Linked DNA regions of Homo sapiens. The protein of the gene in region 1 purifies or fractionates together with the protein of each later gene. This does not show direct contact. Each region holds a gene or a part of one and is shown on either strand. Other genes may lie near its edges.

Evidence for each region.
Region 2: the proteins of AURKC (region 1) and MYH1 purify together in Homo sapiens (affinity purification with mass spectrometry; 3 studies listed by BioGRID and IntAct, with this or other methods). This does not show direct contact.
Region 3: the proteins of AURKC (region 1) and FKBP5 purify together in Homo sapiens (affinity purification with mass spectrometry; 3 studies listed by BioGRID and IntAct, with this or other methods). This does not show direct contact.
Region 4: the proteins of AURKC (region 1) and MYH4 purify together in Homo sapiens (affinity purification with mass spectrometry; 3 studies listed by BioGRID and IntAct, with this or other methods). This does not show direct contact.

What each region holds. Positions count from the first base shown.
Region 1 is NC_000019.10:57,227,181-57,234,044, forward strand, and holds the start of AURKC (aurora kinase C), read left to right. Parts: upstream 1-3,842; 5' UTR 3,843-3,933; coding exon of another isoform or gene 3,934-3,934; 5' UTR 3,935-4,068; coding exon 4,069-4,126; intron 4,127-4,561; coding exon 4,562-4,607; intron 4,608-4,852; coding exon 4,853-5,044; intron 5,045-5,361; coding exon 5,362-5,500; coding exon of another isoform or gene 5,501-5,505; intron 5,506-6,279; coding exon 6,280-6,428; intron 6,429-6,864. UniProt on the Homo sapiens protein: Serine/threonine-protein kinase component of the chromosomal passenger complex (CPC), a complex that acts as a key regulator of mitosis.
Region 2 is NC_000017.11:10,515,530-10,522,712, reverse strand, and holds the start of MYH1 (myosin-1), read left to right. Parts: upstream 1-4,170; 5' UTR 4,171-4,193; intron 4,194-4,442; 5' UTR 4,443-4,473; intron 4,474-6,030; 5' UTR 6,031-6,070; coding exon 6,071-6,274; intron 6,275-6,370; coding exon 6,371-6,514; intron 6,515-6,630; coding exon 6,631-6,787; intron 6,788-7,183. Other genes in the region: MYH2 (myosin-2), read left to right, coding at 1,281-1,433. UniProt on the Homo sapiens protein: Required for normal hearing. It plays a role in cochlear amplification of auditory stimuli, likely through the positive regulation of prestin (SLC26A5) activity and outer hair cell (OHC) electromotility.
Region 3 is NC_000006.12:35,636,916-35,643,915, reverse strand, and holds part of FKBP5 (peptidyl-prolyl cis-trans isomerase FKBP5), read left to right. Parts: intron 1-1,072; 5' UTR 1,073-1,091; coding exon 1,092-1,196; intron 1,197-6,757; coding exon 6,758-6,902; intron 6,903-7,000. UniProt on the Homo sapiens protein: Immunophilin protein with PPIase and co-chaperone activities. Component of unligated steroid receptors heterocomplexes through interaction with heat-shock protein 90 (HSP90).
Region 4 is NC_000017.11:10,466,554-10,474,078, reverse strand, and holds the start of MYH4 (myosin-4), read left to right. Parts: upstream 1-4,519; 5' UTR 4,520-4,542; intron 4,543-4,742; 5' UTR 4,743-4,791; intron 4,792-7,135; exon of another isoform or gene 7,136-7,294; 5' UTR 7,295-7,333; coding exon 7,334-7,525. UniProt on the Homo sapiens protein: Muscle contraction.

The DNA.
Region 1 (6,864 bases):
TTACAGTTTATTACCACAAAAGGATAGAGACCAAGATCACCAAAGGTAAAAGGCACATAGGAGGAAATCTGTGAGAAACCAGGCACAATTTTTTTTCTTTTTTCTTTTTCTTTTTTTTTTTTTTTTTTTTTGAGATGGAGTCTCGCTGTGTCACCCAGGCTGGAGTGCAATGGCACAATCTCGGCTCACTGCAACCTCTGCCTCCCAGGTTCAGGTGATCCTCTGCCTCAGCCTCCCAAGTAGCTGGGATTACAGGCATGTGCCACCACACTGGCTGATTTTTGTGTTTTTAGCAGAGATGGGGTTACACCATGTTGGCCAGGCCAGTCTGGAACTCCTGACTTCAAGTGATCCACCCGCCTTGGCCTCCCAAAGTGCTGGGATTACGGGTGGAAGCCACTGTGTCCAGCACAGGCACAAACTTAGCAGGTGTTCCCTCCCAGTGCAGTTGCACAAGGGCACACTGAATTCTCCCAGCAAAGTTGTGTGCAACACATTCACAGTATTGCCAGCCAGGGAAGCTCCCCCAAGCCTTGACGTCTAGAGTTTTCGTTAAGGGTCATTGAGGTAGGAATGCAGAACCCACATGAATAACCATAAATATCCAGTCTACAACCCTTGCAGAAAACAAACATATAGCATGGCCCAGGGCCTCATGCATGCAAAAGCCAGCATCCACCATGAATCATATTGTTAGCATAAATTATCTGGTCAAACGTGCAGCAGGACCTACTTATGGTTTTCGACATAAAAATCTTACCAGGCAAGATACCCCAAGAGGTTGTTTTCCTGAAGTTGGCCCTAATTCATTCTAGGGTCAGATATCAGATAGCTGCGGACAGTGCCTGTGTCCTAAAACCTGCCAACATTATTCACAGTAGCAAATCCTATTCTGTTTATGCTGCCCCTGCCCTGCCTTGCCTTGCCTTTCTGGTGGAAAACACAGCGCAGGCTCTGGGCCTTGCTTTCTCCTCTGCTGCTGCTTTCTAACCTGCTCTGGTGCTTCCACCCGCATGGTGTGCTCTGCCTCCTGTTTCTAGGGATCTCTTACTATAAACTTCCTCCATAATAATCACTTCTGTATCTGATTGTCACACCCTGCCTGACTAAATACAATCCCAGGTATATTCTAGAATACACAGGGAGCCTATTACAACATCCTTGGGCCAGGCGCAGTGGCTCGCGCCTGTAATCCCAGCACTTTGGGAGGCTGAGGCAGGACTGCTTGAGCCCAGGAGTTCAAGACCAGCCTGGGAAATATAGTGAGACCCCATCTTTAAAAAGAATAAATTTTTAAAAATTGGCTGGATGTGGTGGCATGCACCTGTGGTCCCAGCTACTTGGCAGGCTTAGGTGGAAGAATTGCTTAAGCCTGGGAGTTCGAGGCTGTAGTGGGCCATGATGGTGTCACTGCACTCCAGCCTGGGTGGAAGAGTGAGACTTTGTCTCAAAACTAAAAATAAAAATATGACCTCCTTACTGTGGCCTCCAGGACACTACAGAATTCACGTCCATCTATCTCTGTGATTCAGTTTATCTTCAGCTGCAGCCATACTAACCTTGTTGCACTTCCCCAAACACGACAGGATCCTCCTGCTTTCATTCCCTTGTCTTAGGTGCTCTCTCTATGAGACCCTGTTACCTCAGATGCTCCATTCCTCCAAGTCCATGCTCAGATATAACTGTCTTTTAGACATTTCCCAACTACTCTACCTCCCTCTAACCTTCTATATTGTTTACTTTTGTGGTTGTGGTTGTTCTTTTTGAGTTACTGATTGTTGGAATTAAAAGGTCCCCGAGGGCCAGGGACAGTGGCTCACGCCTGTAATCCCAGCAATTTGGGAGACTGAGGTGGGTAGATCATCTGTGGTCAGGAGTTCGACACCAGCCTGGCCAAAATGGTGAAACCCTGTCTCTACTAAAAATACCAAAATTAGCCGGGCGTGGTGGTGTGCACCTGTAGTCCCAGCTACTTGGGAGTCTGAGGCAGGAGAATTGGTTGAACCTGGGAGGCAGAGGTTGCAGTGAGCCGAGATCGCACCACTGCACTCCAGCCTGGGCGACAGAGTGAAACTGCATCTCAAAAAAAAAAAAAAATTCCTCAAGTACAGGAATGCATAATTATTTTGCTATGTACATATCTGATTTTTTAGAGCAGTGCCTGTTGCAAGATAGGCACTCAATCGATACTCATTAAATTAACAATATACACATATATAAAACAGCACTTTCACATGGTTATGAGTGACCTAAGGAAAAACAGAACAGGATGACGTTGTAGTGGGGGCTGTTTTAAATTGACAGTTTGGAGCTGGGCGCAGTGGCTCACACCTGTGATCCCAGTATTTTGGGAAGCCGAGGCGAGTGGATCACCTGAGGTCAGGAGTTCGAGACCAGCCTGGCCAACATGGTGAAACCCTGTCTCTACTAAAAATACAAAAATTAGCCGGGCATGGTGGCAGGTGCCTGTAATCCCAGCTACTCAGGAGGCTGAGGCAGGAGAAATGTTTGAACCTAGGAGGCGGAGGTTGCATGAGCTGAGTTCGAGCCACTGCACTCCAGCCTGGGTGACAGAGCAAGACTCCGTCTCAATAAACAAACAAACAGACAGGTTTGGGAAAGCCTCTGAGAAAGGAATGGTTGGCCTGAGCTAAGCGCCATTACCCTGATCCACCTATTGTAACCACCTAATGGGTTCATTATTTTCCCTGCTCCCCAGATAGAGTCGACTTATCAAGACAGGATAATTGCAATAAAGGGTTTAATTCACATCAATCGAGCTAAATGAGAGACCAGAGTTTTATTACTCAAATAGGTCTCCCCAAATATTTTGAGACGAGCTTTTTTGTTTTTGGGTTTTTTTGTTTTTGTTTTTGTTTTTTTTGAGACAGAGTCTCGTTCTCCTTCTGTCGCCCAGGCTGGAGTGCAGTGGCATGATCTTGGCTCACTGCAACCTCCGCCTCCAGGGTTCAAGCGATTCTCTTGCCTCAGCCTTTTGAGTAGGTGGGATTACAGGCATGCGCCACCACACCCGGCTAATTTTTGTAGTAGAAACGGGGTTTCGCCCTGTTGGCCAGGCTGGTCTCGAACTGCCTACCTCAGGTGATCCGCCCGCCTCGGCCTCCCAAAGTGCTGGGATTACAGGCATGAGCCATCACGCCAGGCCTTCAATTATATTTCTGCAAGATATGTTCCCTGTCTAAAAGAATTCAATTTTTAATGTTTTTGAAACTTATGTGTTTGCTAAACAAATACGTGGGGGCTGATTTTACGATCTGAGGCCAAATCCACAAACTGATTACAGGGTCCAACAAATATTTGGCGAGTGGGAGGAGAGGGGTAAGTGAGCTGGACTGGTGGCGTCCTGGCTGTGAGCAGGCACAGCCGCAGGCTTCAGGGAGCCCCATCGCGGTGACCCTGGAGAGTGGCCTGAATCGGACGTGACCTTGAAGCAAGGTGGTTTTGGGGTCGCCGGCTGCACAAGGCGCGAAGTGGTTTAGGGTCACGGGCTGCACGAGGCTCCAGCACGTCAGGAGTGGGCGTCTGTTCATTCCCACGTGCATCGCGGCTCTCTCCTAGTTGACGCATGCACACCCCGTGGGTGTATGCGTTGTTCATTCCCACAACGGCCATCACCACCTCTCCGCACCCTCTGTCTCCTTCCTTCTCGGGCCTCACCCCTGGCCCTCGCTTTCAGTGCCCAGCCCGGACCGCAGCACTCCAGTTCCGCCCCAACCCGGGAACCCTGGACTGAGGCTCCCGTTTCTGTCCTTTCTATTGGGCGCACTTCCGATGGCGTCAGGAATTTCAGCCAATAGGAGCCAGCCAGGAAGTACCTCTCTGAGCGGTTGGTGCCGGGTATAAAAGAAGGCCGCGCAGCCACGGCTGCTCACGACGCCGCGGATCCCGAAGCCTGTGTAGCAGTGAGACATCAGTGAGGCTGCAGGACGAGCAGGATTGGAAGCGCCCCGGCCAGAAAGTGACCCCCCACCCCTTTCAGGACCCTGTGAACGGGAACAGCCATCCAGAGGGTTCAGGAAGGCGTCCGCGCCCTCACCTCTTCTCCCCATGAGCTCCCCCAGAGCTGTGGTGCAGCTGGGCAAAGCTCAACCTGCAGGCGAAGAGTGTGAGAGCCAGCGCCAGAGAAAGGACGCAGGGAAGGCTGGGGACTGGGCCAGGGGTCGGGTGCACAGAAGACACATGTGTTGACATCTCCCCTCCCTCTCCTCCTCCCCAACGCTCTTCTTTTCTCCCCACTCCCTCCCTTCCCTCCAATTCTTTCTTTCACCTCTCCCTCCCCTACTCTCTCCTCCCCTTCCTTTCTCTCTGCCTCTTCTTCACCTCCTCCTCCCCTCCCTACCTTACCTTACTCTTTCTTCTTCCCCTTACCTCTCCCTCCCCCTCTCCCTGCCTTCCCCTTCCCTCTCTTTCTCTCCTCCCCTTCTTCCCCTCACCTCTCGCTCCCTATTCCCTTCTCTACTGTTCTCCTCTCCTCTCTTTCTCTCCCCTTCTCCTTCCCTCCCCTCTCCCTTCCTATCTCCCTCCTCCTCCTCTCTTTCAGTGGCTACAGCAAACCAAACAGCCCAGCAGCCCAGCAGCCCAGCCATGTGAGTCCCTTGGGATTGGTATCTGGAAAAGGAAGGAAGGTGGGACGTGGGGATGAAGAACAGACTGGGTGTGTGGGGTGCTGGCTCCTGGGAACGAGAACTACTGATAGGGCTGGGTCTGTGTGAGAAGGGAAAGCGGCAGAGGAAGGATACAATGAAAGAGGAAGGGGAGCATTGGCATCCCTGACTTTCCCTCCGCCTACCCTACCTCCCAAGCTGAGGCTTTTTTCTTCCTCTCCTGTCAGGCGGCGCCTCACAGTCGATGACTTTGAAATCGGGCGTCCCCTGGGCAAGGGGAAATTTGGGAATGTGTACCTGGCTCGGCTCAAGGAAAGCCATTTCATTGTGGCCCTGAAGGTTCTCTTCAAGTCGCAGATAGAGAAGGAAGGACTGGAGCACCAGCTGCGCCGGGAAATTGAGATCCAGGCTCATCTACAGTAAGGACAGTCTCTGCTTCCTCTTTCATCTTTGACGTCTGAGCCCAGCATTTTCCCCAAATACTAACCCCAAGTAAACCCTGCACTTGTACCTTGAAGACTTCTCTGCAGTTCATTCCATTTACACTACCTCCTACCCTGGGTCAGACACTCGAATCCTGGTTCCTGTTCTCCGTTCTCCCCTCACTTGCTCCCAGATAGGGCTGTTGTTATTCTGGTCCCAGCATAATTTGCCACTTGTGTGACCAGGCAGTGACGGTGGCATCATATGATAGGCCTCAGGGAGAAATCTGACTCTTCCAACATTAATCCTTCAGACACCCCAATATCCTGCGCCTGTATAACTATTTCCATGATGCACGCCGGGTGTACCTGATTCTGGAATATGCTCCAAGGGGTGAGCTCTACAAGGAGCTGCAGAAAAGCGAGAAATTAGATGAACAGCGCACAGCCACGGTGAGGTGCGGGTCTGGAGGCTCTGGGGTCTCTGAGTTTACTGTGGGCTGGTGGGAGCTCTGTTTGTGGCTGTCAGGAGGGTCCGCATTGCCTTCTGAGAAGTTTACTTCTGAATGTTATTGTGTAAATTTAATATAATGGCACGTATGTTCTACAGCTTTATCCTTGGATACCCTAATTAACCTCATTGTATCTCCAGAATATTAATAAGTACTGCGTATAGGTTTGGATTCTTTGGTTATAAGCAACAGAATCTAACTCCACTGCCTTATGTAAAGAAACATATTGAAAGGCTCTGAAGGAGTTCACTGAATAAATAGCTAGAACTGGCTTAGAGATAGGTACAAAGAGATTTCTAGAGGGTTCCGGAAAGGGAACCATGGCAATGATTTTCCCAGGAGCAATGGTCCAATCAGCTTGCTGTGTCAGGATGAGTGGTCTTCCATCTTTCCTCCTGTTTCTGTTTCACTTCCTCGGGCCTCAAGTCCTGTGAGAGATCATCTGAGTGGCTCAATGTAGGTTCTATGTCTGGCTACTTGCTGTGCTAGGACAACAGGGAGGATCTGTGTCCATGTTACCATCCATCCTATAAGACCACATAAAAAGGAGAGGAAAACCACACCCCACACACCAGTAACTGGTGCAATTTAAAAGGAGGAAATGGAGTTACTGGACCAAAAAGATTCCACTGTAATCATACAATTCATGGTAAGTGTTCCACCTCAGACGGAAATTGTGGCAGGCTTCACTTCCAGGGTGACTTTTCTTTGCACCCACAGATAATAGAGGAGTTGGCAGATGCCCTGACCTACTGCCATGACAAGAAAGTGATTCACAGAGATATTAAGCCAGAGAACCTGCTGCTGGGGTTCAGGGGTGAGGTGAAGATTGCAGATTTTGGCTGGTCTGTGCACACCCCCTCCCTGAGGTAGGTCAGGTGGTGGTGGTAGGGTGAGTTCTGAGTACCAGTTAGGAATGACCCAGTTTAATGTATTTCATGTGTCCATGTGTAAAACCTAGATACGAACTTGGGGTTTCTATTGGAATACTGCCTTTTTCTTTTCTTTTCTTTTCTTTTTTTTTTTGAGACAGAGTCTAACTCTTTCACCCAGGCTGGAGTGCAGGGGCACAATCTCGGCCTCCCAGGTTAAAGCGGTTCTACTGCCTCAGTCTCCCAAGTAGCTGGGATAACAGGCATGTGCCACCACACTCGGCTAATTTTTGTATTTTTAGTAGAGACAGGGTTTTGCTATGTTGGCCAGGCTAGTCTCGAACTCCTGACCTCAGGTGATCCGCCCACCTTGGCTTCCCAAAGTGCTGGGATTACAGGCGTCAGCCACCATGCCTGGCTGAACTACTGCCTT
Region 2 (7,183 bases), on another chromosome or scaffold:
TTATAAGTAAAATCACAAGGAAGATGCTACTTTTACAAACCTACAGAATGTAGTCAAAGCTGTGCTAGGAGGCTAATTCATTGCTTTAAATGCTTTCATTATGAACCAAAAGTAAAAATAAACAAACAGACAGTCCAATAAATAAATTATAAATAATAATAAAACAGTAGAAGTAAGAAGTACTGTTAAAAATAAAAGTAGAAATTGGTGAATTAGAGTATACTATTTTCTATTTGATAACTTCAGTAATATTTGTAACTTCTGGGGAATTAATAAAATAAATGTATTATAACTAGTTTCATCAAGGAAAATAAGAGAGAAAATATAAACAACATTAGAAATGAGAAAGGGAATAAGCTATATACATAGAGGATTATTTTTTAATATAAAACACATCTATCAATAAAGTTGAAACCCTGAAAAAAATTGATGATTTTTCTAGGAGGATATAAATTACTAAGTTGGCTGAATTACTTCTGGAAATGGACCCAAGTCCAGATAGGTCTTTCAAAATTTCAAGGAACAGATAATCCCCCAGCTATGTAGCTGTTCAAGAGCATGGGAAAAGATAGAAAGCTGTCCAGTTCATTTTAAGAAGCTCACATAACCCTCATACCAAAACCTGCCCAAGAGAGGACAGAGGGAGAAAAACTAAAGGCAATTTTACTCATAAAGACAGTTACAGCAAAGATAAATTACTAAGTAGTAAGTCTTACTTTATTAAAGGAATTGTCTTCCAGTGATTAAATAAGGTTAATTCTTACAATGTAAAGATTACCTAATATTAGGTTATCTGTCAATAGAATCATTACATCCAATGCAGGAGGAAAAAAGTAACCATTTTGAAATGTGCCAAAATGATACATGACAAAATCCAATATTTATTTCAATTTTTAAAAACTTAATAAGTTCATTCTTAATATGATAAAAAAAATCTAACTCAAGGGAAAATCATCATCTTATAGCAAGCATTAACAACTATGACTTTAATATTCTTGCCTTCCTCTCTAAGCTTATATTTTTCTTCTTATTCTACTTGTGGTACATATATTTTATGTGTTTTGGTTGCCAAAATAGGAATGTGAGATACGTATGTATGTATGTGTGTGTGTATATATATATATATATATATGACATCAATAAACAAATCTTAAAATTAATTTCAATGATAATCCCTAGATGTTGCTTCTCCATAGATGCCAAGTCCTTTCTTCTATTAGGTCTAAAGAGTCTAGAAAGATGCAAGTATGAGTTCCTTACAATTCCATTTTTATTCTCAGGAGGAACAATCCAACACCAATCTAGCTAAATTCCGCAAGCTCCAGCATGAGCTGGAGGAGGCCGAGGAACGGGCTGACATTGCTGAGTCCCAGGTGAACAAACTGCGGGTGAAGAGCCGGGAGGTTCACACAAAAGTCATAAGTGAAGAGTGATCATGTCCTGATGCCATGGAATGACTGAAGACAGGCACAAAATGTGACATCTTTGGTCATTTCCCTCTGTAATTATTGTGTATTCTACCCTGTTGCAAAGGAAATAAAGCATAGGGTAGTTTGCAAACAATATCCTTAGACTGGTCTTGTCTTTTCTCTTTCCTGAAGCCATGTCAAAGTTTGAATAGTCACCAGAGTTGTCAAACAATCACATTCAATTGGTGACTTTTTTGGGGGTCTACGGCAACACTTTAAGGCTGTAAAGATGTCACTTATCCAGAAAGACTGTTCTAATGAACAGAAATTTGGAAGTCTATTTTATTTCTTTCTAACCTTTCCTGATATCTGAGTACAGTAAAATCTTAGAAAGCTCCTGCTTCCCCTAACATGAACCTTTTTCAGGATAGTACTAGCTATATTCTCACATAGGGGATTCAAACTGAATTGTATCATTAATTCTCTTTGTTGAATAACTGTTATCAAGAATATAAATACAAAATATTCTTAATTAGCCCATGGATATTTACATTATCAATTCCAATGTACCATATGCCCACAGTAGGTGCACTGGGTAATGGGTTTGACACGACCTTGTTCTTCACGAAGCAAGTTTCAAAATTAAATTAAATATGACTCTTCTCCCTATGAAAACTACAGGGTGTCTATCAAATCTGGAGACATAGAGAATATTATTTTTACGTTATAATGTAGTATCCATGAGCTATTAGCTTATGTTTCCAATCTTTATGGTCTCCCAGATAATCATATAAAGAGCCAAAATAAATGACTAAAAGTGTCAAGAAAATATGATCTCAAAGTAGGTTATTCAAATCTATATTCAACACACATAATGATGGGTATGAGTTTGGTACAAAAAGTAGATATCATAGCAATCTGGACCACTCAGAGACGTTTTCCTAGAGGATCAAGATTTTTAAACTGGATGCAGCTGAGATGCATAGCCAAAAATATAACCTTCCTCGACAGAATAAAGGAAGAGCTAAATGGTAACTTCCCATCAAATAGAAAGCAAGAGTATCTTGGTCTAAATGGCACTGTGTGAAAATGATGTAAATTAGACATGGTAGTTTAACAGGTAAGTTGGATTCACACTGTCGCACTGGCCTTAGAAAGGGTGTGGAATTGCTCTTCTCGCTGCATAAGCCCCTCTTTCACTTTGTTCCTGTATCACGTGGAATTGCTTAAGTGCTTTATAACGTGGCAGTAATAAACAAAAACAATATCTTACTTCCTACTTATTGAAAAGTTTATCCAGAGCAAGACAAAAGGTTGTCTGAAGATTCCCATCAGATCCTATTGAGAGCATTATTAAAATGTTTTATCTTCCTGAAAATCATTACCCACATTTTGCAGGTGCCTAGTAAAGAAACAGACATGTAAGAAAGTAAAATTAGGTACCTGTGGTAACAAAGCAGGCTAATAGATGGCTAGGAAAGGCCCTCTCAGACGCACATCCCTGCAATACCCTTCCTGATGGCTTTAATCTACCCCAGGTAGAAGAGTGTCACAAGTGAGTACGCTGGACCGCAAGTCAGATGACCAGAGTCTAAACTGCTGTGTGATTTGTGGAGATTCTCTTCTATTTTTTGGATCTCAGTTGCTTTATTAGTAAAATGAGAAAGATGAATTAGATGATCCCTTATGGTAATAAAACTATGTGACCTTTACAACTAGTATATCCAGATATCTCCTTTCATAAGGCAAGCTATAGCCATTAAATCAATTGAGATATAAGTACAATAATACAGATGTGGGTGCAAAACCAGGTATATTAAGCAAATGTTGTCCCAGTCCTAGCCAGACAATGCTGACAGACAGAGACGTGAGGCCACAAAGACAGTAAAATAAACTTTTTTAAAAAATTAAAATAGAAAACAATATTCAGGTATTGTTTGTAAGCAAAATACTAAATATATCCCATGGACTGCTGATAGAGGAAAAATCATCGATGCTGCATATTTAGACAGAGAAATACCCTGTTTCCAATATTTTCTTATGTTGAGTTTCATAGAGGAAACAAGATTTCACAAGCAACTTGGGCACCAAAAAAAAATGAGAGAAGCAGGACATCTCTGTTTGGAAGGCAATGCAATTTCGGAGCAAGTCCGAAGTGCCGGTGGAATGATTTGACAATGAATAAGAGGCGACTGATTGAAGGAAACAAAAGAAGCTATCTTTGGCTGCTCTTCATGAAGCAAGTTTCAAAATTAAATTTCCAAGCAACTTTGAAAAAGCACAATAAATTGCAAAAAAAAAAAAAAAAAAAAAAAGGAAATCTTTTTGAGAGAAAGCAACGTTTTTATAACCCTCTGCTAAAGAGCAGAAGTTTTCCTCCCGAGTACACTATCTGTAACTGCGCAGGCAGTTGAAAAGACTTCACACAGGCGACTCTGTGAAACAGAAGAGCAGTAGGCAACAAAGTCCAGGGATTCCAGAACTTAGCTGTCTTTGAAACAACACCTTACATTCCAAAGGCCAACAACTTTAAGATTGCCAACGACTCAAATTATTTATAGGAGATTGATTCATATACTTAACCCAATATGAGAGGAAATATTTCTAATTATATCCAAACATCTTTAATATGAGGGGAATTAGGCTTGGAGACCTTCAATGCCAAAAACATGTTTTGCCAAATATGTTTTAAGAAAGAGGAGGAGGTTACGTGTTTTCCATATTTGAGCCTATAAAAGTACCCTTGGAATGAGTATGACTTGTCTCTCCTCATAAAGCTTCAAGGTAAGTGTGTGTGAGGACAGGGCTCTGTCTGGAGGACGGTAAGGGATGTCTGGCTGCCCGCGTGCATGCCACACATCCTGGCTCCCACTGTCCCTGGCAGCCCTGCCAGTGAAGCACCAGCTTACTCCGTAGCAATTTTAATTAGATGTTGTAGTCTTCCCAGTCATTTCCTGGTTCTCAGTTAAGAATTGTTCTATAATCGGGAATTGTTATAATTTAATCAGAAGAGGTTTGCTCTTTTTCTTACAGTTCTGATCCACTTTAAGGTCGCATCTCTACGGTAAGATTCTGATTTTTTTTTTTCTCATTCCTCACAGAGTGCAAGGAATCTTCTGCAGTGGTTTGGACAGTGGTGAGGGGCGGGGTGAGGGAAGTGATAAAAAAAATCATTTCCATTTCATGGTTGATCACGCTTCTCTTAAAAAATGGAGAATGACTTTAGAAACTGGTTCTCCTTAACTCATATCCCTCGCAATATATGAAAATGCTTTCTCAGAGTCCTTGGGAATTTTATTCACAATAGTGAATTTCATTCACTATTTCCAGCATTGTAGTTTATCTTTTAAATGACTGCATTACAATATGCAATGTAACATTTCAAAGTGTTACTCAATTATAGAGAAAATTTAAATTTTCTATACCATGGCTTTTCCTCAGCACTATAAATATAAAAACCTATGAGAGATGATGTCTAATTGGATAAATAGAATGGTCTGAATCTTTGCCTTGGAAAAAGTTGCTTAACTGCATGTTGTTTCACAATCTATAAAATAAAAATTAACGAATATATACACACACACACACACATATGTATATATACACACACACAATACGAAACATGATTGTCAGCATATTCAGCAAGATGAAGCATTTTAATTATGTTATCTGAGTCAACATAGTTTCAATGGGAGAAATGTATCCAAATGAGCTTCCCTGGAAAAGGTATCTTTATTATTATAAAGTAGAATATACATGAAGATTATTGACAGCATTAATGAATGCTAGCTAATGTGGCAAGAGGGGGATCCTGAAAAGAACAAGTTTTGTGAAATTGTTATAAAAATGTTAATAATAGAGCAAGAAAACATAGGTAATAACGTTTTATAATAAATATTTAAGAAATGCTAAAGATCAGTGAAGAAGTTGAGTTTGTCAAAATTATTATACAGAGACAACAGAAATTGATGGATAACAGAACATTTTTTAACAATGCAAAACAAAGAGCCACACATTTCTGCTTTCCTGTATATTAGGAAGTCTTCGTAACTCCCAAGTTTATAATGAAAATATTTCTGTCATGTACAGAATAGTTCCTAAAATTATAGCAACATATTCCTATTGTTCTTTTAATTCACCAAGCCAGCTTTGAGCCTTTCTCTGTGTCCAGCATTTGTTCTAAGAGGTGTGAAGGATACCATAAAAAGAAGAGTGCTCCCTGCCTGCAAGGTGCTTATAATCCAGTTGGGAAGATAAAAACTATAAGTGAAAGAACTGGAGACTATCCTGCCACCATTATAGCTTTATGTTCTCTATAAGCCAATGATAGGCAGCTTATAAAGATTAATATACCTAACAAATGAAACAGAGAAAGCAGCTAAGAGACTGCAATAGGTGAGCCAGAAACAACAGTCTCTTTCCAAATGCATGATTAAGTGTCTGTCAGCACTGGCACAGAACAAGGAGACTGACATTTTATCCTCAACCAAGCCAGGGAGGTGGTCATACCCAATGCAATGCTAAGCACTCAATTGGTCAGTAAATTTTTTTTTAAAGTTTTAAATGTGAATCTAATGGTCCAGTTTCTTAATTTCTACAATTTCTTTTCTTCCTCTCCCAGCCAGGGTCCTTAACTGGGCTACCATCAATAACCTGCAGCCATGAGTTCCGACTCTGAGATGGCCATTTTTGGGGAGGCTGCTCCTTTCCTCCGAAAGTCTGAAAGGGAGCGAATTGAAGCCCAGAACAAGCCTTTTGATGCCAAGACATCAGTCTTTGTGGTGGACCCTAAGGAGTCCTTTGTGAAAGCAACAGTGCAGAGCAGGGAAGGGGGGAAGGTGACAGCTAAGACCGAAGCTGGAGCTGTGAGTAAAAACACCTGGAGCTGATTAGACTCTGCCTCATTTTGGGTTAAGTTAGCACTTACTTTTTGATCTGGCCTCTCTTGTTTGACTGGACAGACTGTAACAGTGAAAGATGACCAAGTCTTCCCCATGAACCCTCCCAAATATGACAAGATCGAGGACATGGCCATGATGACTCATCTACACGAGCCTGCTGTGCTGTACAACCTCAAAGAGCGCTACGCAGCCTGGATGATCTACGTGAGTTCTTTCTCACGGTCTTCTACTCATGAGAGTAGTTAATAGTTTTTGAAAAGTAGTAGATGATTAAGGTCCCCATCAAATAATTCTGTTCCTCCCTTTTGTTTTGGGTGCAGACCTACTCAGGCTTGTTCTGTGTCACTGTCAACCCCTACAAGTGGTTGCCAGTGTATAATGCAGAGGTGGTGACAGCCTACCGAGGCAAAAAGCGCCAGGAGGCCCCACCCCACATCTTCTCCATCTCTGACAATGCCTATCAGTTCATGCTGACTGGTGAGTGGCTCAGCTGGTTTTCATATGAATTATTTTACCATCCATAATCACAAAATATTAGAACTAAAAAAAGACCTTTAGAAAAAAACCCAATTCACGCCCCTGGTTGTTCAGCAGAGGTGACTAAAGCACAGAGAAGTATATACTGTCAAAGCTCGTATTAAAACACAGCTCTCCTGATTACACCTCACTGACTTTACTAGGCCATGCTATTACTCCATCCCATTAAGTTTAATTTGTTTATGGTCTCCTTGCTTGGAAACACACAATTTATTTTATATATTTAAGTAATAAGAGCCAAGATTAAGTAACAACTGAATCATATAAATCATGTATTATCTGAATAGAAATGAAAAATAGGAGTTCAATCCTTTTGGTGCCTCAGTTTCTTGTTAA
Region 3 (7,000 bases), on another chromosome or scaffold:
CAAAGGTAGAGGCATTCTAGGGAATCTAAATATGAACAAAGCATGGACCTTGCTCTGAAGGATCTTTTAAACCTAACAGGCGCATAGTCTTATGAATCTCTTACAGACAACAAATCGAGAGAAGAGCTAAGGAAGTACGTAAAAGGGCAAAATGGCCTACAAATAGAGGGTCAAGGTTGGTATGACAGAAGTAGGATTTGAGAGAGGTGGATGTTTTGGAAACAAGAAAGGGAGTGACCAGAAGAATGACTATGGGAAAGCACTGGGTTTGTTGTAGAGGTGGAATTGGCCTAGTTTGGCTGGAGCATGAGCTGCATGAAAGAAAGTAAAATAAAATAATGGCAGCTAGAACTCAAAGATAGATTAGGGCCAGATTGTGAAGGGCCTTGAATGCCACATGGAAGAACATTCTGTAGGTATTTTGGGCAGGAGATGAAAAATGACCCTACAGAAGGCCCAATAATGATGATAAATGGTTAAATATGTTTAAGTTACCAATCTATGCTAATCTTTTAAGAAATGTTATCTCACTGTAACTATGAATAGTGTACTGTGTCCATTTTGCAGATGAAAAATGAAGGCTCAGCAAGATTAAGGAAACTGGAAATGTCAAGAGCTGCAGCTAGGACCCAGACTTGGGTCTGTTGGATTCTAAATCCTGTTCTGTGTCTCACTGTGATTGATATATTGTCACTTCTTTTATTAAGAACTGATAAGGTCTTAATCCTCTGTCAAGAATATGGCTGTAGAAAAAGGATGTTTTCAAAGTTGTGAAGGGACTGCTTCTCACCATGTTATGTTAAGGAATGTAATCACTACCCAACTTGACTTGTACTGTTCTCTGTTTTGAGACCAGAGCTAGATGGGAAATTAAAGAATTGGATGATGTTTTATTTACATGCCTGATGACATCAATACATGCTCATAGCAAATGCCTTTGTTTTCATTTTCAGTATCTAAGCTTATTGGCCCTAAGTAAATCTTAGGTTAGGTAGAGCTCAGTTCCCAGGGACATTCAAGATTCATAAAGAAGTGATATTTTTCCCAGCTAAAATATTTTTCTTCTTACCAGGTTCTCTACTTAAAAGACAATGACTACTGATGAAGGTGCCAAGAACAATGAAGAAAGCCCCACAGCCACTGTTGCTGAGCAGGGAGAGGATATTACCTCCAAAAAAGACAGGGGAGTATTAAAGGTGAGGCCACAAAGCTGAGTGACATACAAGGAAACCTGCTGTCTGGAAAGATTATAGCATCTCTTTCTGAGGGGGGCTGGGGTGGATAATGTTTATTGATGGTTACTAAGTGCCAAACACTAGAGCTAGATTCTCATTTTGTCTTCATAACTTCAAGGTTTTTTTTAAGAGTTGAGTCTCGTTATGTTGCCCAGGCTGGTCTTGAGCTCCTGGGTTCAAGTGATCTTCCCATCTCAGCTTCCTGAGTAGCTGGGATTTTCTTTTTAAATTAATTAATTAAATTTTTGAGAGAGGGCATCTCATTATGTTGCTCAGGCAAGTCTTGAAATCCTGGCCTCAAGCAATCCTCCCACCTCAGCCTTCTGAGTAGCTGGGATTATAGGCACGAGCCACTGTGCCCAGCTAGAGATTTTAATTTTTAATCCCAGATTATAGATGTTGAAATTGAGACTGGGCTAGGTAAATTAACTTGCCTAATATCATATATCTTAGTAATGCAGATTTACCTGGGGTTCAGGTCCAAGTTATATCTCACTCTAAAGGGCTATATTTCCCTATTCTCAGAGTATACAAATAGGTTACTATTTTAATGTATCCTTTTAGTACACTAAAGCTAGCTAATGACAATTTTGAAGACTTTTTAAGGAAAGAAAAGCTAACTTGAAAAATTCAAAGGGGTTTTATTTTATTTTATTTTATTTTATTTTATTTTATTTTATTTTATTTTGAGACAGAGTCTCCCTCTGTTGCCTGGGCTAGAGTGCAGTGGTATGATCTCAGCTCACTGCAACCTCCGCCTCCTGGATTCAAGCAATTCTGCCTCAGCCTCCCGAGTAGCTGGGATTACAGGCGCCTGCTACCATGCCTCGCTAATTTTTGTAGAGACAGGGTTTCACCATGTTGGCCAGGCTGGTCTTGAACTCCTGACCTCAGGTGATCCGCCTGCCTTGGCCTCGCAAAGTGTTGGGATTACAGGCATGAGCCACCGTGCCCGGCCCAAAGGGGTTTATTTTTATATATAAATATTGTTCCTGTGTACAGTGAAGATATCTTTTGCGATTTCCTCTTAGAATATATCTTACTTTTGAATTAGCTTTCCTACTTATTAAAGCACTATACAGTCATTCACCATATAATGACATTTCAGTCAGTGACAGACTGCACCTTCAGCAGTGGTCCCATAAGATTATAATGGGGCCGAAAAGTTCCTATGGCCTAGTGGTGCCATAGCTGTTGTAGCATGGGTAGTACAGTGTATTATGTGTTTGTGGTGATGTGGGTGTAAACAAACCTACTGCACTGCAGTCACAGTTATGTATAGTACATAATACTTGATAATAAATGTTTATATTACTGGTTTATGTGTTTACTATACTTTCTATCATTATTTTAGAGTGTGCTTCTTATTTTTTAAAAAGTTAACTGTAAAACACCCTTGGCTGAGTGCAGTGGCTCATGCCTGTAATCCCAGCACCCTGGGAGGCCAAAGCAAGAGGATCACTTGAGGCCAGGAGTTCAAGACCAGCCTGGGCAACATAGTAAGACCCCTATCTGTAGAAAAAAAATTAAAAAAATTAGCCAGGCATAGTGGCATGTACCTGTAGTTTCTACTACTCAGGAGACTGAGGCAGGAGGATCATGTAAGCCTGGGAGTTCCAAGCTGCAGTGAACTATGATCATACCACTGCATTCTAGCCTGGGTGAGAGTGAGATCCTGTCTCAAAAACAAATGAACAAACAAAAAACAGCCTTGGGCAGGTCCCTCAGGAGGTATTCAAGAAGAAGGCATTGTTATTATAGGAGACAGCAGCTCCATGCATGTTACTGTCCTGAAGACCTTCCAGTGGGACAAGATGTGTTGGTGGAAGACAGTGATACTGATGATCCTGACCCTCTGTAGGCCTAGGTTTATGTATGTGTTTGTGTCTTAGTTTTAAACAAAAAAAAGTTTAAAAAGTAAAAGAATAAAAAATTTAAAAAACAGAAAAATGCTTATAGAATAAGGATATAAAGAAAGAAAATATTTTTGTACAGCTGTACAGTGTTTGTGTTCTAAGTGTCATTACAAGAGTCAAAGCTAAAAAAAAAGTTTACACAGTAAAAATGTTATAGTAAGCTAAGATTGATTTATTATTAAAGAAAGAAGAAAAATTTTAAAATAAATGTAGTCTAGGTGTCCAGTGTTTATAAAGTCTACGGTAGTGTATGGTAATATCCTAGGCCTTCATGTTCACTCACTGCTCACTCGCTGACTCATCCAGAACAACTTCCAGTCCTGCAAGTTCCATTCATGGTAAGTGTTCTGTATAGGTGTACCATTTTTTTTCTTGTATACCTTTTATTACTGTACCTTTTTCTATGTTGAGATATGCTTAGATACACAAATACCACTGTTTTACAATTGCCTGCAGTATTCAGTGCAGTAACACAATGTACAGGTTTGTAGCCTTGGAGCAGTAGGCCAAACCACCTAACGTGGGTGTGTACAAGTAGGCCAGGCCATCTAGGTTTGTGTAAGTACACTCTGCGATGTTCACATAAGGATGAAATCATCTAAGAACACATTTCTCAGAACATATCCCTGTCCTTAAGCGATGCATGACTGTGTGTGTTTCTTCACTCTATAGTTAATCATTTTCACGTGCATTTCTTTTGTTTTGTTTCTTACAACAATGTGGTGAGACAATCAGAGCATCTCTTGATTCTTCCATCTTATAAGTGAATAAACTGAATCTGAGAAAGGTTAAGTGGCTTTAGTCACATTAAATAGTTATTTCTCCTACACCATTGTTAACACATGTAAGTTTTGTATAGTTAAGTTTTGTTTTTCCTGAAAAGATTATCTGATGCATTCTGAATATTACCAGGATGCTGAGTTTTAATATCTCTTGTGCCAGCAGTAGCAAGTAAGAATTTTTGTTTTGTATAACTTTGCTTATGTGAAAGCCTTCTGTGCCTGGATCTCTTCTGAATATATGTGAATTGCTATTATGTGCTAAGTCAAATTTTGGGGACTTGCAGCTATAGAATAAGGGCTTTATGCTATAGATTTACATCCTATTGTCTTTTTTTAGAAGGCTTCTCAACCTTGTAGCTATAGTTACTCATCCTAAATTCCAGGAAGCTTCTAGAAACAGTGGAGACTTTGCAGGCTGTCCTCAGCATCTCCCTGCCTCTGTTTACGACTTACCCTTTCATCTTTTCAGAGTGCCCATGCCCAGAGAACATGATCCCCAACTTGCCTCAGACCCTGTTCTGTTCTAGGGAGTAAATCTAATTGCAAGATTTTTAGGCTTATTAAGAAACATTTGAGATTTGAAGCCCTTTAAATTATATCATTTATCATTGTCTAGAGCCTCGGATTTCACCATGAGGCTTTTGGTTAAGATTTAAATAGGTCTAGTAACTGTGCAAGCTAGGGCAATTTAGTTAACCTCTCTGTGATTAAGTTCCTGTTTGTAAAATTAGAATAATAATGCCATCAACCTCATAGAGTTATTAGGATTAGGTGAAGCACTTAGCATAGTGCCTGTCCTATAGTAATCTATCTTATTAACTATTACGTATTTTTAAAAAAAGAACCAGTGCTGGTTTGGAAATTCAGTAACTATCTGAGGAAGATAAAAGATGGATTTATATTTTAAAAATGAATAGAACCTAGATTGTGTTCTTAAGGCAACTCTAGATTTAGGTACAAATTCATCTTGCTAGGGAAGCCTGAAGTGATACCATAGTACCACTTGCTGGTGTGGATGGCTCTCTGACTCTCTGGTAGCCATTCATCCCACATGCCCAGTTACTGTTTATAGTCCTAGAAATGCAGATTCCTTCCACGTGAGGCTTACAGTTGAGCATAGCCTCCCAAATACCACATGCAGTTCGTGAACATGAGCACTTGTAGAATATTGTGTAATATCTTTTAGATTAATGTTTTGAGACTTTTTTTTTCTTTTGAAGTCCTAGAAGGGCAGTAGTGTTTCTTTGCCTTTAAAGAATATTTGGGGCTGGGTGCGATAGCTTATACCAGTAATCTCAGCACTTTAGGAGGCTGAGGCGGGAGAATCATTGGAACTCAGGAGTTCCAAACCAGCCTGGGCAATGTAGCAAGATCTCATCTCTACTAAAAATAAAAAAATTTGCCAGGCGTGGTGGCATGTGCCTGTAGTCTCTGCTACTCGGGAGGCTGAGGTGGGATGATCACTTGAGCTGAGTGATAGAGGCTACAGTGAGCTATGATTGTACCACCGCATGCACTCTAGCCTGGGTAAAAGAGCAAGACCCTGTCTCAAAAAATAAAATAAAGATGTTTGGGCTTTTGAGTTAAGAAAGCTGTGGAATTTAAGTTCACAGTGTTTATGTGATATTTATGTTAGGTGGACGGTATACTTGTAAAAAAAGAATTTAGGAGCAAATAATCGAATTATTTAAATAAAACTCAAAGCAAACTCCTTCCCCAAAAAGATGTTCATCAGATGTTAGCTACCATCCTCTGTTATCTACCAAAAATGATTAATTTGGCATAGATTACAAATTAACAAATTACACCATCACACACCTGGGTTTGATTTTCTTTTCCCAGAACTGACCAAATACATTAGCAGCTTGCTCTGCCAAGAACAAAATAAATACACTGGATTTTACAGTAGTTAAATACTTTACTAGAAAACAAGTTATTCAGTATCATATCAAGCAGTGCAATGATACTCATGTTTTTTACAGATAGACTATGTTTCAAATAATAGGAAATGTAACCTGTTTTACCAGGAAATTGGGCTTTCTGAAAATAAACAAGCAGAATCTAGTCAGGAGCTAATGTTTTTAGCAAAGGAGGGAAATAAAATTACACCTTTGAAGCTTTGCTTAAGCTTCTTTTTGAATATTTTAAAAGTCCACCATTCTTTCTGGTCTAAGTCCGTGTGTATATGGACTAGCTCACAAGCCTGTGTTAGAGAGTTTAGTGTCGGGCGCGGTGGCTCATGCTTGTAATCCCAGCACTTTGGGAGGCTGAGGCGGGTGGATCACGAGGTCAGGAGTTCGAGACCAGCCTGGCCAACATGGTGAAACCCCATCTCTACTAAAAATACAAAAATTAGCTGAGCACGGAGGCGCACGCCTGTAATCCCAGCTACTCGGGAGGCTGAGGCAGGAGAATTGCTTCAACCTGGGAGGCAGAGGTTGCAGTGAGCCGAGATCGTGCCATTGCACTCCAGCCTGGGCGACAGGGCAAGACTCCGTCTCAAAAAAAAAAAAAAAAAAAAAAAAGAGTTTACTGTCAAAATATAGGGCATTAAACCAATGAACAGGATTTATTGGTTAATTCTTTGAAGGAATAAATAGTGCGATTAGCAATAAAAGTAGATATAACATAAAAGACAAGTTGGTAAAGGACAGTTTTCTAACAATGAGTTATTGTGAGGAATGAAGGGAGGCATTAGAAAGAATGGATAATAGTATATTTGCATATCTGCCTGGATGTCTTGGGATGGACTGTGTGACCTTTTTATTCTCTGATTACAAGTAAAAAGTTTGACCTCCTTTTTCTTAATGTTTGTCTTTTCTAGATTGTCAAAAGAGTGGGGAATGGTGAGGAAACGCCGATGATTGGAGACAAAGTTTATGTCCATTACAAAGGAAAATTGTCAAATGGAAAGAAGTTTGATTCCAGTCATGATAGAAATGAACCATTTGTCTTTAGTCTTGGCAAAGGTAAGAGGGTATTTTTTTGAGTTGTGTTTTACTTAGCTTTATTACTATTTGTAATATATAGGAGCAGAGGATTCTATCCTTTCTAAAAGTAAAGAAAT
Region 4 (7,525 bases), on another chromosome or scaffold:
CCGATAAACTCTTACCTTGGTTAAACCCAAATATTCATCTTTTCTGTGGACACATCCAAGCAAACAAAGTTGTGGGAAAAAAGCATGTAACTTTGCTAAACAGGTCTCACTTTAATTTCATGATTATCTCTCAGTACTCTGGGGACATGTAGTATACCTTTCACTCTCCAAAATGAACACTTCACATCTTCTCTCTATATACCCACTACATCTCCTCCCCTGCCTTCCACTCAGTCAATGACTTTGCTGCGTACGTCACTGAGAAAACAGAAGCAAGCAGAATTCCTTCCTAAAATTCTCAATGGCTTCCCATATCACTCAGATTAAAAGCCAAAGTCCCTACTGTCCCATAAGTACCAACTCCCTCATCTTTTCAGCATCAAATCTACTAAGCTAAAACTTGCCTTCACTCTCAGTCTTCTTTCCTAATACACAAAGTGTTCCTGTTCCCATCAGAGTCCAACCCTTCCATTTAGCCTCTGGATTCTAGCCCCTCCATCTTTTGCATTATCAATTTGTTTAACTCACAGAATTTTTCTCCCCAACACAAATATATTTAATCTTGCCCATCTTTTAACAATATGCTTAGTTTTTCCTATCTTGACCCCATGTCTGCCTCCAGATACCACTTCATTTATTTGTTATCCTTCTCAACAATCCTTTTTTTCTCTAATCATTATTATAAGTACTTGTCCCTAGGTGTTGAATCACCCCCAGGATTTGGGATCTTAGGGGCCCCAGATATTGGAGAACAGAGAGAACACTGTGTCCTTTCCAAATTATTGACCCACAGAATGCATGTGCCTTCTAAAATGGCTGTTTTAATCCACCATATTTCGGGTAATTTGTTATGCAGCTATAGTCACTAGGACACAGTCCAAGCCATTACTCTATTCCATCTGCATTGTGGCAATGCCTATCTATCCTTGGCCCTGCTGCCCACTGTTGGCCTACCCTTGATGCCTGCAGTCTACACTCAACATAGAAAGCAGAGTGATTTTTACATTCTGTCAGATTTTATTGCTTCTCTTCCTAAAATTCTCACTGGCTTCCCATATTACTCAGATTAAAAGCCAAAAAGTCCCTATAGTCCCATAAGGACCTACATTACCTGACCCTTCCTAACTCATCTCCTGCCACTCTCCTCTTTGCCCATTTTGCTCCTGTTACAGGTTTTCTTGCTGCTTTTTTAAATTGACAAATAAAAATTATATATATTTACACATATCATGGTGTACAACATGATGTTTTAAAATAAGTATACATTCTGGAATAGCTTAATTCAACTAATTAACATATGCATTACCTCACATACTTATTTGTTGTGGTGATAACACTTAAAATCAACTTTCTTACCAATTTTCAAGTATACAATACATTGTTATTAATTATAGTTATGATGCAGTACAATAGATCTCTTGAACTTATTCCTCCTAACTGAAATTGTATATCGTTTAATCAACATCTAATTCCTTCTCCCAACCCTCAATCCCTGGTAATCACTATTCTATTCTGCTTCCGTGAATTCAACTTCAGATTCTACTTATAGGTGAAATCATGTTGTATGTGTCTTTCTGTGCCTGGCTTATTTCACTAGTATAATATTCTCAAGGTTCATACGTGTTATCACAAATTAGACACTTTAGGCATACTCCTACTTTAGAGACTTGGTACTTTGTGCTCCCTCTGTCTGAAAATTCTTCTTCCAGATATTCATATGGCCTGCTCCTTCACTTCTCTCAAACTTCTACTCAAATGACACCTTAATACAGAAGCCCATCCAGGTCACTCCCCTTGGTGCAGTATTCCCTTTACTCCTTACTCTGCTTTATTGTTCCTTTTATAGTAGTTAATACCATCTGACATACTACATATTTACTTGTTTATTTGTTTATGTATATCCACCCCTGCTGACTGAAATTGCCATAAGGGCAGGGCTTTGCCAGTTTTTTGCATTATCCCCTGTGCTATAACAACAGCTGACACATAGCGGACACTCTGTAAGTATGTATTGAGCAAACAAGTGAGTCAATGACCTACCCACATGATGAAATATAACTATGTAGAATGTAATAAAAGTAGTTGACTTGAAAGTGACTATACAACCTCTTTTCAGTAGTGATGGCCCTTTGGAGTCTCAGAGAAATTTAAAAGAAGACAAACACCAGTCTGACTTGCTGAATCTTAAGGGTTTTTTAAATTAATGTCATGCTGCCACACTGGACACTATAGAAGCTAAGACATGAACATCTCCAACCTAGGTCCCAACTGTATTTTTAAACAAAATTTTTAAAAGAAAAAAAATAATCTTGTTCATTAGACATTTCCTATCTACCATCTGTCTTCAGCTCTTTACTACCACTTTAACTCCCTGGGTATATTTGGGAGAAATACCAGCAAGCCATTGTGACCTTCATCTCTAGTGAAGAAATGTTTGCTTCAGCTGCCCCTGGTGACACTATCCTAAGCAGTTTACATACGTGCATGTATGAATTACATAAGATTGCATATAATAAAGTATACATAATCTCCCATATGTGATATAATAATATAATTTCTGATACCTATATATATAAAATCTAATTTAATTCATACAACCCCGTAAGGTGAAGGCAGTATTTGATTTTCACCACATTTATGTTTTTAATAGATAAGGAAATGCAAGGTTATAGAAGCCTATAATATTTCCTAATCTGAGGAAAGTAGAGAGCGAGCAGCTTTTACACAGACTGCTTAAAGACAGTTTCCAAAATAATTCTCCTTATTTAGATTGGAGCCATTCTTCCCACTCATATCTAATCACAAAGAACCATACAAATACAAAAGCCTTCGCATTAATCTCCTGTGTTTTCTATGTAGACAATCCTTTAAGAGGCAAGTCTAAGGGAAATGTGTACTCCCTCACCCAGTGCTGCTTCTCTTCTCTCCTTGTCCAAGCTCTGCAAGGTTCTCTGATCCACTCCTGGTGGCCCATAATAGGGGTCCCACTAGAATATTATGGTCTTGTTTCAGAGCTTTCAAAATCTGAGTGATCAGTCTATCTGTAATTGATCAGAGTTTTAACTATTATGTAAAGAGTCCTCACTATCTGTAATCCTATAACTCATCTATGTATCTTGGTCTCATTCATATTTTCTTCTTTCATCTTTCAACTTCAAATACAGTAAATATAATACATACTTATTATGTCTGCAAGTCAGATGTTAAGTTCCAAAAGAAGTAAAAATAAATGAGTTGTGAAAATCTGAGAGAAAAAATAGAACAAGTTTCCTTCTGGCCTAGAGCCTAGCACTTTGGGTAAGTCGCTAGACTTCGGTGAGTTATTTTCATGGAGATTTTGTTTTTAACGCCTGATGACCTATTTCATAGAATTTTATCAAAATAAATTTTTAAAGTATAAAAGATTCAATCTATCAATGTGTCAAAGATAAATTCTAAGTCAACAGAATTATAAAAACAGTGATCTCATTAATTGGTAATTTAAGCCAGCTAATGATAGTTGAAAATATCTCACCAGAGCTCAGTTAGGGTCACACTTAGAGTAGGTATATTTCCTGCCATATTCAGTAACAGCTGTGTATGTAGCAAAACCATCAAAAGCCAATTTATGAGTATTATGGGCATATGTGATGGCCCATCCATCTTTTCAATCCACAGGGAGAATATCGTGGATACCATGACTTTCCTCCCACCTTAAATAAAAATATGTGGTTCCCACCTCATTAGAGCTATAGCTAGTCATGAGAGTCTGCCCATGAACTAGGAATGCATGTTTGTGTCTCCTTCCATTATGCAGAGGAAACATGCATGGAACATCACACAGCATCCTGTTGTTCCTTCAGTGAAAACATACAAGCTGGAGATATCCATGGAAAGTCCTCCAGAAAAAGAACAGAAGTGTTTATATCTATTCTAAATCCCTTATGCCTCCCCCAGTGGTCCATCACCACTGCCTAATCTGAGAATTCACTTTCACCTTCATATTTAGACTTTCAGACTTTAAAAGAATCTATCGCCAGTCTTTCTAAAATCCAGACTGTGGCTAGGAATGTTGTCTTAAAATCCATCGCTCACTGCTTCCAATCATAGTGTCAGGTCTAAAATTCATTCCAGACTCCTTAATGGCTCTAAGAACCAACAAATTAATTAATCCTAAATTCCTCACATCAGACTCATTCTGTTGGACCAATTTTATAGGCAGAGGAGTAAGTGGGAATCTGGCTTTGAATTCTGTGATGAATGATGCAACAGCCAAACTGGAGAAACAGTGTTAGAAGCCCTGAATCCCCATCCCCTATCAAATGCCTATAAAGAACCCTAGATCATCCTCTGTTAAATTATTTATGGGTGTCAAGAAATATTTCTAATTATATCCATTCACAGCCACAGTCAGTGAATATTGTGCAAAGAGATTGCCAAAAACGGTTTTGCCAAGTAGGTTCCCAGCTAGGACAGCTGAGGTGGCTGCTGTGTTTGCAGAATGGTCTCTATAAAAGTGGAGCTGAGATGCCTCTTTCCCATCCTTCCTCAAAATTCTTGAAGGTATGTATATGTGGAAGAACACTTACTTTTACATTCCTGATGATGATGATTTTTCATTTAAGGGATGTCTACTGCTTCCCAAATTTTAATTATTCTTTCCAACATTCTTAAGGACGACATTGTAGACAATATAGTTACTAGTATTTTGTGATTAAATGGGGAAAAAAAAGCATCCCACATTCTCTTTTTTCTTTCAACAGTAGTTGTCTGCTTTGAGCCTGCCACCTTCTTCATCTGATAATACAAGAGGTAAGAATAATTTATTATTACACTCTAAAGAACAAAGGAATCTCTATATTGCTACATCTTAATGAGCTACCATTTTATTTCCTAGTTTAGTATTGGGAATAGGATATCGGGGCAGCTGTTCTTTAAAAATGCCTTCTCATAAAATTTTGACTTTTCAGGCCACTTAATCAAACAAAACTTAATGAAACTTCTCTTTCACATGTTGTTAGAACTACAGAAAGAATGCAGCCATCATATGTAATATTTAATGTGAACTACTACTCCAACTTAACCCATAAAGATATATCAGAGAGACCGCATGATAAAATCAAGGTGTGTTTATCTGGAAGTCGATATTTCTAGGTGCCAATCCAGGCTTTTCACTGATTCTATTTGCCTGGGTCAAGCCAGTTAGCCTTTATGTATCTTGAAATACAGTGTGTTGCAAGTGGAATTAACAAACCTGCATTTAGCGGAACAGGACTCATGTCCCAGTACCGCCACTTATCACCCACCACTATGACACTGAATGACCCTGAACCTTTCTAGGCCTTAGTTTCCTCATCAGTAAACGAGGAGGCTGGATTCTATTGACTGCTAAGGTCCTTCCAGCTCTTGCCAACTGTGATTGACGTCAGTGGTTTTCAAGGACTCCTCCACAGAATCAAAACATTTAATGGAACCCTGCTAATGGAGAATCAAAACTAATGGAATCCTGCTAATTGTTCATGTGGAGACATGTACTTTTAGTATGATGTTAAGGATATATATAATCATGAAAACCTATTCTACACTTAAGAATTATTTTAAATGAGTTTATATTTAACATAGCAGCTATATTCATTTAGAAAAGAACAGAAAACACTGTTCATGTGGAAATGTTCCTTCCTTAAACTTGAGGCAATGATCACTGTGTGGGTGGATTCAAGAACCCCCTGCAACAACCTGAGGCTCTATTGGGGCTTGATCCCCAAGTTGGGAAACAATTAATCTATAATAAGACAGGAGATGGGAAGGGTAGCAATCATCTTTCTGTGTTTCCTGGATACACTGCATTATAGTAACCTCCACGTGGTAGTGTGTTGTTAATTCAAGTTGCCTGGTGTAAAAACAAACACAGAAACAAAATATAATGTAATATAAATAACATTTCTTCTTCAAAGAAAAAAAACCTGACATTAAATGTTCCAATATATATCCCCTGAAAATATGTCTAAGTTTCACAGTGTCATCAGGACACTTTTACAGATAAGACTGATTTTGAAAATAGAGTATGTGGAAATTCCATAGCTAACATTTTAAGTTGAGGGAAAGTTAATGCTGATGACAAAAGATCAAGACTCTGGAAAGCCTACAGAAGGTGGTGGCTATTGCTGTTGTCGCCATCATTGCTGTCATTGTCATTGGCAACCAAGACACTTCTGCTCCACAGAGGTCACCTTCTTTTATTCTGGCCACTCACCCTGTCCTTGCCATCAGGACAGCAGGACTTATTTTATTTTCTCATAATTAATTTGTCAGTAGGGAAAATTTTTTAAGTTCATTTTGGCTTGAAACTTTATACTGGCTATCCATTTCAGAAAAATATTTAGAAGACTGGTTGGTATTTTTAAAAAGAGGAGAAGAAAGAACGAGATTATAAACCTAAGAAAATAAGAATCAGATTTTAAAATATGTTAGGTTGAAATCCAACTAAAAACAAAGAGAAATACAGATCAACACATACAATCACTATAAAATTTTATTAAAAATTAAGAAGTTCCTTTTCTCCAAGAATCTTTTAAAGTTGTTTTTGGTTTAGATACTACTTCTGACTTTCAAACAATTTCAAAACTAATAAAGGAGATTTTAATTTTAACTTAGGGCAAAATTATATGTTGGATATTCAGCTTTCATTGTAGTTATTTTTTCCTTTACTTACCTAATACCTGTCAGTTAACTAGGTGTTTATTTGTAATGATTAGATCTGGACTTATGTCCGGAAAGAACAGGTGTATCTGTCTACATTCAATTTTAGTAAATCTGACATCCAATTTTAATAATTTGGGATGAGAGGAAAATTTGCATAAAGATCTGTATTTGAGTTTTTAAGACAGGTTCATTTATATTGTAAAGCCAGTGGAAACAGTTATTGTCCATTTCTTTGTATCATCACGATGTTAAGAGGGGGAAGTTGGAAATAAGAAAGAAAAGAAAAGTAGCAAGAAAAAGAAAAAATTCTGAACATGCTTGGAGCATCACAAATGTTGCTGATTGAATGTTGATTCCTCCACATTTCTCAACTAAGGTTTACAACATAGAGGATGGAACTTAGGCTTAAAGTATCACAAAAATTAAGCTATCAACATAGTGCTTTCAAATCAATGAGCTGATCTCTCAGCTCCTTGACATAGTATACAGGAGTGGTCCCTAAAGGCAGGGGTGAGGAAACAAGCATGGAAAATTAAGCACATTAATATGAAATCAACAGAACAATTCTCCACCCCAACCCTGAATCATCATTTGGCTCTGTTTCTTCCTCTAGGTATACCTAGTCCAGTACTGCCATCAATAACCTGCAGCCATGAGTTCTGACTCTGAGATGGCCATTTTTGGGGAGGCTGCTCCTTTCCTCCGAAAGTCTGAAAAGGAGCGAATTGAAGCTCAGAACAAGCCTTTTGATGCCAAGACATCAGTCTTTGTGGTGGACCCTAAGGAGTCCTACGTGAAAGCAATAGTGCAGAGCAGGGAAGGGGGGAAGGTGACAGCCAAGACC